2 separate regions of the Homo sapiens genome follow, and region 2 is linked to region 1. Evidence: fine-mapped expression QTL. Tissue or cell type: monocytes after R848. Region 1 holds a variant in brackets; the other region holds the start of a gene. All regions are shown on one strand. Distances are from middle to middle.

The links. PIP is the estimated chance that this variant, and not a neighbour inherited with it, causes the effect. A credible set is the group of variants that fine-mapping cannot tell apart.
Region 2: it holds the start of XKR8, and the variant in region 1 is the best candidate, but not a certain one, in a credible set for the expression of XKR8 in monocytes after R848 (Quach 2016, PIP 0.68).

The regions. Positions count from the first base shown.
Region 1 is chr1:28,097,126-28,101,509 of GRCh38, reverse strand. No RefSeq gene overlaps it. Among named protein-coding and RNA genes, the nearest start is that of EYA3, 11 kb to the right of the region's middle. The variant C/T (reference allele first, on the strand shown) is at 2,465.
Region 2 is chr1:27,957,922-27,962,305 of GRCh38, reverse strand. It overlaps XKR8 (XK related 8), which reads right to left and starts at 2,333. Exons shown (of 3, transcript NM_018053.4): 1 at 1,944-2,333. The coding sequence starts at 2,236. SMPDL3B (sphingomyelin phosphodiesterase acid like 3B) reads right to left here. Exons shown (of 8, transcript NM_014474.4): 8 at 3,154-3,830. The coding sequence ends at 3,468. RefSeq lists an enhancer at 1,829-2,392 and a silencer at 2,073-2,462.

The DNA.
Region 1 (4,384 bases):
TCACCAAGCCCAGCTAATTTTTGTATTTTTAGTAGAGACAGGATTTCACCATGTTGGCCAGGCTGGTCTTGAACTCCTGGCCTCAAGAAATCCACCCATCTTGGCCTCCCAAAGAGTTGGATTACAGACATGAGCCACCATGTCCGGCCCATAGCAGCTTTTATAAGTCCATTGTTTTCTGATTTTTAATCACTTACATATGTATGTATCTGTCATAATTCTAAACACTTTACATGTATTTGTTATTTAACTCTATGAGATAAAGGCTTTTCTTTTTTTGGTGCATTTAAATTTTATTTGAAATTTTATTTTTATTCATTTATTTTTGAGCAGAGTTTTGCTCTGTCGCCTAGGCTGGAGTGCAGTGGAGCGATCTCAGTTCACTGCAACCTCTGCCTCCTGGGTTCAAGAGATTCTTCTGCCTCAGCCTCCCGAGTAGGTGGGATTACAGGCATGTACCACCACACCCAGCTAATTTTTGTATTTTTAGTAGAGACGGGGTTTCACTGTGTTGGCCAGGCTGGTCTAGCCAACACACCTTATGTAATCCACTTGCCTTGGCCTCCCAAAGTGTTGGGATTACAGGCGTGAGCCACTGCACACAGCCAGTGCTGTTTTAAATCTCCATTTTACATGTATGAAAACTGAGGCACTGGCCGGGCACTGTGGCTCATGCCTATAATCCCAGCACTTTGGGAGGCCGAGGCGGGCAGATCACCTGAGGTTGGGAGTCCGAGACCAGCCTGACCAACATGGGAAACCCCGTCCCTTCTAAAAATACAAAATTAGCTGGGTGTGGTGCCACATGCCTGTAATCCCAGCTACTCGGGAGGCTGAGACAGGAGAATTGCTTGAACCCGGGAGGCGGAGGTTGCGGTGAGCGGTGAGCCAAGATCATGCCATTGCACTCCAGCCTGGGCAACAAGAGTGAAACTCAGTCTCAAAAAAAAAAAAAAAAAAAGAAAGAAATACTGAAAACTGAGGCACTGAGCAATACTTGACCTGTCCAAGTGCGCACAACTGTAAGTGGGAGAGTCAGGATTCAAACACAATCTGTTTCCAGAGCCCTTGAAAGTCTATACATTCTTACTATGGGGGAAGAAAAAGAAAGAAAGAAAAAAAAAAGTGAAGTTGACAGAATATATGACATGGTCCCTTCTATCCACAAGAAACATCTATTATTAACAGTTTTTTTTTGGTTGTTGTTGTTCTTGTTTTTTGTTTTTTTGAGACAGAGCCTTGCTGTGTTGCCCAGGTTGGAGTGCAATGGTGTGATCTTGGCTCACTGCAACCTCTGCTTCCTGGGTTCAAGCAATTCACCTGCCTCAGCCTCCTGAGTAGCTGAGATTACAGGCATGCGCCACCATGGCTGGTTGGTTTTTGTATTTTTAGTAGAGATTGGGTTTCACCATGTTGGCCAGGTGGGTCTTGAACTCCTGACCTCAGGTGATTCACCCACCTCAGCCTCCCAAAGTGCTGGGATAACAGGTGTGAACCACCATGCCTGGCCAACAGTTTATGTTTTAACTTTAAATCTAATTATAGAGTACAAATACACAGATAATGGCATTCTTGGGGGAAGGTATAACCATAATTTTTTTTTTTTGAGATGGAGTCTCGCTCTGTTGCCCAGGCTGGAGTGCAGTGGCACGATCCTGCTCACTGCAACCTCCGCCTCCTGGGTTCAAGTGATTCTTTTGCCTCAGCCTCCCAAGTAGAGTAGCTGGGACTACAGGCGTGTGCCACAATGCCTGGCTAGGTTTTGTAATTTTAGTAGAGACAGGGTTTCACCATGTTGGCCAGGCTGGTCTCAAACTCCTGACCTCAAGTGATCCACCCACCTTGGCCTCCCAAAGTGCTGGGATTACAGGCATTAGCCATGGCACCCGGCCAGTATAGCCATGATTAAAAGCAAATATGAATCCATCATCTGGTTGGCAGGAAACTTCCAGGCAACCTAAGTTTGACACAGCTCACTCTGGAATTGGACAGGGATACAGGCCCCTGCTAACCCAACTAACTCAGCTTAGTTATGGGCAGCTGACAACTGCTCCGCACAGCAGCGGCCACCTGAACAGGAGGGGAACCAAGAGTAGGAACGGGAGGCAAGAGTGGGTCAGTCTAGTGCTCAACAGGGCAAAGGCAGGGGCAGAAACCAGGTATCCCAGATGAGTCAGCCAGAAAAGATAATCCAGCACCAGCAGGGCAAAGGGCTGGTCTGTGGGTCTTGTGTTGGCCATGAGGACAATTCACAGTTATGTGGAGTCCCAAGGCTGTGCCAAAACAGCTGTTACTGGTCATGTGCAAGAAGATACTGTCTCAAGTGTTTTAATCAAAATAGAAAGGCATCCTGGTAGGAGGGTGTTGAACATGGCATGGGTATAGCCGTGTGTGGGAATCAGGCATCCAGAAATGGCCAAAGTGGAGCCACTGCAAATAGTACAAGAATGAATATACACAATGA[C/T]TTAGGTCAGCAGTTCTCAAATGTTTTGATATCAGGATCCCTTAATGCTGTTAAAAATTACTTGTGACCCTGATGGCTGGATGTGGTGGCTCACGCCTGTAATCCCAGCACTTTGGGAGGCCGAGGTGGGTGGATCACCTGAGGTCATGAGTTTGAGACCAGCCTGGCCAATACGGTGAAACCCCATCTCTACTAAAAAAAACCAAAAAACAATAAACAAAAAATTAGCTGGATGCGGTGGCATGTGCCTGTAATCCCAGCTACTCAGGAGGCTGAGGCATGAGAATTGCTTGAACCCAGGAGGCAGAGGTTGCAGTGAGCTGAGATCGCACCATTGCACTCCAGCCTGGGCAACAGAAGGAGACTCCGTCTCAAAAAAAAAAAAAAAAAAAAAAATTACTGGTGACCCCAAAGAGCTTTTGTTTATATGATTACAGCTATTTATATTTTCTCCTTTAGAGATTAAAATTGAGGAATTTTGAAAATGCAAGAATATACCAGCACACATTCCATTAGCCATTAGCAATGAATTAGCACATAGCCCCTGGAAAATTCCACCACACTTTTGAAAGAATGAGAGTGAAAAAGGCAAATAATGAGTTAGTGTCATTTTTAAAGTAGTTTTGATTTCACTTACTCCCTGTTACTGTCTTGGAGGTCTCCAGGAGGTCCCCAGACCATACTTTGAGAACTACTGGTCTAAATAATATATAGTAGGCTGGGCGCCACCTAGCACTTTGGGAGGCCGAGGCGGGCGGATCACATGAGGTCAGGAGTTCAAGACCAGCCTGGCCAAGATGGTGAAACCCCATCTCTACTAAAAATACAAAAATTAGCAGGGCATGGTGGTGCATGCCTGTAGTCCCAGGTACTCAGGAGGCTGAGGCAGGAGAATCGCTTGAACCTGGGAGGTGGAGGTTGCAGTGAACCGAGATTGCACCACTGCACTCTAGCCTGGGAAACAGAGTGGGACTGTCAAAAAAAAAAAAAAGAAAGAAGAAGAAGAAGGAGAAGGAGAAGGAGAAGAAGAAGAAGACTGGGTAAGTACTGTTTTTGCAAGCCATCATTGCTGCTAGTAACTTTCATTCATTCATTTTTTTCTTTTTTTTTTTTTTTGAAGACAGAGTCTCACTCTGTTATCCAGGCCGGAGTGCCGTGGCGCTATCTTGGCTCACTGCAACCTCCACCTCCCAGGTTCAAGTGATTCTTGTGCCTCAGCCATCCGGGTAATTAGGATTACAGGCGCTTGCCACCACGCCTGGCTAATTTTTGTATTTTTAGCAGATACAGGGTTTTGCCATGTTGCCCAGGCTGGTGTTGAACTCCTGGCCTCAAGAGATCCACCCAAAGTGCTCGGATTCCAGTTGTGAGACACTGCACCCGGCCTATTGCTGCTACTACCTTTCAAGACTCAGAGAGACTAGAAACTGAAATTCTGGGCTGGGTTTGGTGGCTCACACCTGGAATCCCAGCACTTTGGGAGGCTGAGGTGGGTGGATCACTTGAGGTCAGGAGTTTGAGACCAGCCTGGCCAACATGGTGAAACCCCATCTCTACTAAAAATATAAAAATTAGCCGGGTGTGGTGGCAGGTGCCTGTAATCCCAGTTACTTGAGAGGCTGAGGCAGGAGAATCACTTAAACCTGGGAGGTGGAGGTTGCAGTGAGCTGAGATCGTGTCATTACACTCCAGCCTGGGACACAAGAGTGAAACTCCTTCTCAAAACAAAACAAAACAAAACAAAACAAACTGATATTCTGCCTCAGAAAAACCCCATGTCTCCGGCAATGATCATATTGGCCAACAGAAACAGCCAACTGCAGGAAAATGGCTTCTTCCTCATTTCTACCTTACAAATCTTACCTAAGTATATCTAATGGACCATATCTAGTTCTCACCCAGAATCCTACGTGGATGGAA
Region 2 (4,384 bases), 140 kb after region 1:
CACCAAGCCTGACCAGACCCTACCTCTTTTTAAAAAACAAACAAAAAATTATAAGCAGCTAATAAGTACTGGAATGAGGATTTGGATCCAAACCTGAATTGGAAAGGCATGCTATAAAGTTGCCTGAGGCAGTAGTTCTCAAACTTTAGTGTGCCCAAGATCTCCTGGGGTCCTGTGGGCAAGAGGACATTTGCCTCTTGGGCACTTCTGGGCACAGGCCAGATGGAATCAGACTCTGCCTTGCCCCGGCCACACAGGGGAGGGGCTGGAGGAGGGTTAGATTGGAAGGAGGGATCCCATTTAAGAGGCTGGCCCTGAGTGGTTAAGGATGGAGATTGGGGCGGAGTTAAGAGAGTCCAGAGTTTGGACAGACAGGTCTGGGGTACCCACTGGCATGAAGAGTAAGTGGAGGATGCACCAAGGACCCTCCACCCAGAACTTTGCTCTCAGTTGCCTATTGGGAGAGAACCCCGTTCACTCATCACAAGCTCATTCACCAGACATGTACTGTCACTTCCCCTGGAAGGACACAAGAACACACTGAGGAGCAGGCAGGCAGGACAGGCTGGGGTTCTCCCTCAGCAGGAGCCTTTGCCTATGGTCCCCAGTGACCTAGCAGGGACCCCTGCCTCGGCCAATTCACAGGCAGGAACAGAGACCCATTTCCAAAGCCAAAGCTAGTACAGTCTGTCTGACTCAAGCTCAGCAGAAATATTGGCCACAAAGATGCATAAGGTAGTTACAGATTCACGGCTCATGGAGGCCTGCCCAGGACTTAACAACTGCACCCCTTCATGCCCACCCGGGGTTTTCTGATGTCTCTATAATCCCTCAGGCAAAACTGCCACATTCAAAGCTCCTCTCTTCCACTCCTGGAGACTCCGTGTGGCTTTGTCAAGGCCAGATCTCAAGAGTTTGTAAAAACGGATTCAAGAGCAGATCCTGGCCCTGGCCACCCCATCCCAACCCACACCACCCTCTGCCCTGACTTTGTCGCATGCCTCTGAGCCTTGGGTTTGTTTTCCCATCTCTACGAGGCTCCACCAGGTCCAAAAAGGAGCAGAATCCACACACATTTTCCAGGACCCAGCCTATGCCCAGCCCTGGCTGGCTCCATGGGCATGGATGAGTCAGAGGCCATCTCTGCCCTCTTGCTGGGTCTGGGGTGGGAAGCCAAGTTTCAGGGGGAAGAATACAACCAGGCAGACAGGGTGAGAGGCGGCCTTTGTGAGGGGCAAGCGCTGTGGTGGGGTCAGGGCTGCTGAAACTCCCAGGGAGGCCCAGGTCAAGAAGCCAGCTGAGGTTGCTGAGTGCTCACTCTGAGCCAGGGCAGTGGACAGATGTCATTTCACTGCATCTTCACCAAACGGGCAGGCGCTATCCCCATCCCAATGGGAACAGCAACCAAACAGCCCCACTGAGAGGTCAGTGACTTCCCAAGGCCCTGCCCATGCTGAAACATGGGATGCTGAACTGAGTCCGCAGCCCCTGCCATTACAGGCCAGGCACTGTGCGAGGCACTTTCTCATTCTTTCGCTCACTCTTCACAACAGGCCTGCCCGTCACACCTGTCTCAGGGTGACTACCTCCTTTCTACGCAGGAGGAAACTGAGGCTCAGAGAAATGCAGAAGTGAGGCGAGAGGGGGCAAAGCCAGAAGTGGATCCCTGAGAGGTCCGACTTCAAAGCCCATGCGCCTCCCTTTCTTCCCTGGGCCTCAGTTTCTTCGCCTGTGCCAGGAAAGCTAGGGCTAGAATGAAGGCAGTCTACCGGGATTCCCTTTCCGTAAAGGGCTGCACGCTCACCTGTAGGCCAGGCGCCCACAGGACTTGGTTCCCTCTCCCAGTCCCCTTCCCGGCATATGGCGTGTCACCTGTACAGGTGACCCAGCTGACGGAGGTGCTGGGCTCCGACACTCCTCCCCTCCCGGGGCGAAGCACTCACCTGTACAGGTAACCCAGCTGCAGGAGATGCAGCAGCGCCAGGCAGCGGCGCGGGGGCTGCGACCCGTGCAGGCCGGCAGGGTCAGCGCGCAGCCAGAGCCAGCTGAAGAGCTGCAGCGCCACGGAGGCCAGGCCCAGCAGCGCCAGCACCAGCGCCGCCCACAGGTAGCGGCCGCCGAGCGCATACTGGACGGCGGCCCACAGGTCGGTGCCCAGGTCGAGCAGGAAGGCGGCGGTGCCCAGCACGCCCAGGACCAGGTCCCGAAGGAGGGCGCCGCGGGACGACCAGGGCATGGCCCGCCGGCCTCCGCCCTCTCCTGCTCCTCCGCGGTTGGGGCCTGCCCTCAGGGCCCGGGGTTGCCGAGGCAGGAAGGAGGTGGGCGCAGCCCTCGGGGCGGCCCGGGGCCTGGGCCTGGTGGGCGGGACTTCCCCGTCCCGCCCCGTCCGGGGAGGAGCGAGGCCCGCGGTTGTCCCAGGTCCTCCGCCCGAACCCCAGCTAAAAGCCGCTCGATGCTCTGCTCCCGCCGCCAGCCCAGGGGTCCACCGACCCAGCCCAGCCAAGCCCGCTAGGCCTGAAGACCGACTGCCCTTCGCTTCGCAGGCTTCAAATGGCCTAGTTTTACCTTTGAGGCGCCCGGAGGCCCAAGAAAGCGAGAGGGCGGGGAGACTAGAGCCTGGACCAGGGCTGCGATCCCTCACACCTGTATTGTTGCAAAACAAAACGAAACGCAAAGGCACATTCTAATCCCTAAGTGCGAGACTTTGCAACAACGCGTGCGCCTCGATCCAGGGATACCCGGAGAGCACGGGGCCGCTGGGTTCACGCCAGCGATCCGAGTCGGGGGAGGGCGGGCGTTAGGTTCCTGCAAATGAGTTAACCTCATTTCCATACGGAAGGGAATAGAGGCCGGGCGCGGTGACTCACGCCTGTAATCCCAACACTTTGGGAGGCCCAGGCGGGCGGATCACCTGAGGTCAGGAGTTCGAGACCAGCCTGGCAAACATGGCGAAACCCCGTCTCTACTAAAAATACAAATTAGTCGGGCGTGTTGGCGCGCGCCTGTAGTCCCAGCTAGGAGGCTGAGGCAGGAGAATCGCTTGAACCCGGGAGGCAGAGGTTGCAGAGAGCCGAGATAGCGCCACTGCACTCCGGCCTGGGCGACAGAGCGAGACTCCGTCTCAAAAGAAAAGAAAAGGAACACAACACAGAATCAAACGCATGATGAGCTTTGTTTTGTGAGTTAAACATAATACGCAAAAGAAGTATGCTTGTAGGGGGGTCTTGGGTCGTCATTTCTTTTCTGTTTCTGGTTTGTTTTTGGAGAGAGTCTGGCTTTGTCACCCAGGCTGGAGTGCAGTGGCGCGATCACGGATGGCTGCAGCTCCTGGGGCTTCGCTTCCTGATTCGGTTGTCCTATTTCAGTTCACTCCTCAGGCGCGGAGGAAATGGTGGAAGGCCCAGCTCTGGGTGATCCTGGGCGCTGCCCCCGTTACCCGTTACCAGGAAGAAGGTGAGCCTGGCAGGTCACAGCACGAGCGTGCACAGGCCCAGCAGGGCCATCAGCAGCAGCGGGAGCTGGGGCACGGGCGTGGTGCCAGAGGCATACAGACAGGTGGTGTAAGCGTCAATGTCCACCTGGCGCATGGCACACACGTGCTGCATGCTGCAGGCCTCGTCGCAGACCCCAGCAGAGTAGCTGACTGAGTTATAGACGTAGTAGCGCTGCAGTGTGCTCTGGTCGCCAGCGATGCGGTCCAGCACTGTGTGCATGGAGTGGGCGCTGGCGTCCGGCACCCCATAGGCCTCGGTCAGCTGGTACTCGAGCTCCCAGCGCGGCGTCCCCTGAGCATTCGCCTGGCTCAGGTTCATGAAGTAGGTCACCATGTCCTGGAAAAAGGGTTTGGGGTAGACCGGCTGTGAGCAGTTGTCTGCTTCCATCCCCATCCTGCACCTTGCATTTGCCCCCAAGTTCTTTAGAGCAGTGACCATGACCACTAGTAGTTATTGAGCACTTAGCTGTGCACCCATTGTGCTTGGCAGACATCCTCTGAATCGAATGAGGTAACTGCGCTTATTACCTAGGTTTCACAAATGAGGAAACTGAGGCCTAAAGAGGTTAATTCACTTGGCCAGGGTCATACAGGTATTCATACAGGTATTCAGTGGTAGCAGGATTGGACCCCAGGTTTACCCCAGGTCCCACCATGCTAGGGTACACATAGAAGACGCTCAGTAAATATTTACATAATGAATAGATAAAAGCAACATAAAAAGAGCAACACTAAGCATGAGAGAGATTATGAACTGTAGACTCCTAGGACCCAGGTGCATGTTCACGGCTAGACTCTGCAGGGTTCATCAGTCCAGCGGGTTCCAGGTACATTTATGAACCTGCTTCAGGCCACTGCAGACGGGGTAAGAGGAGCTGCCCGTATGCATGG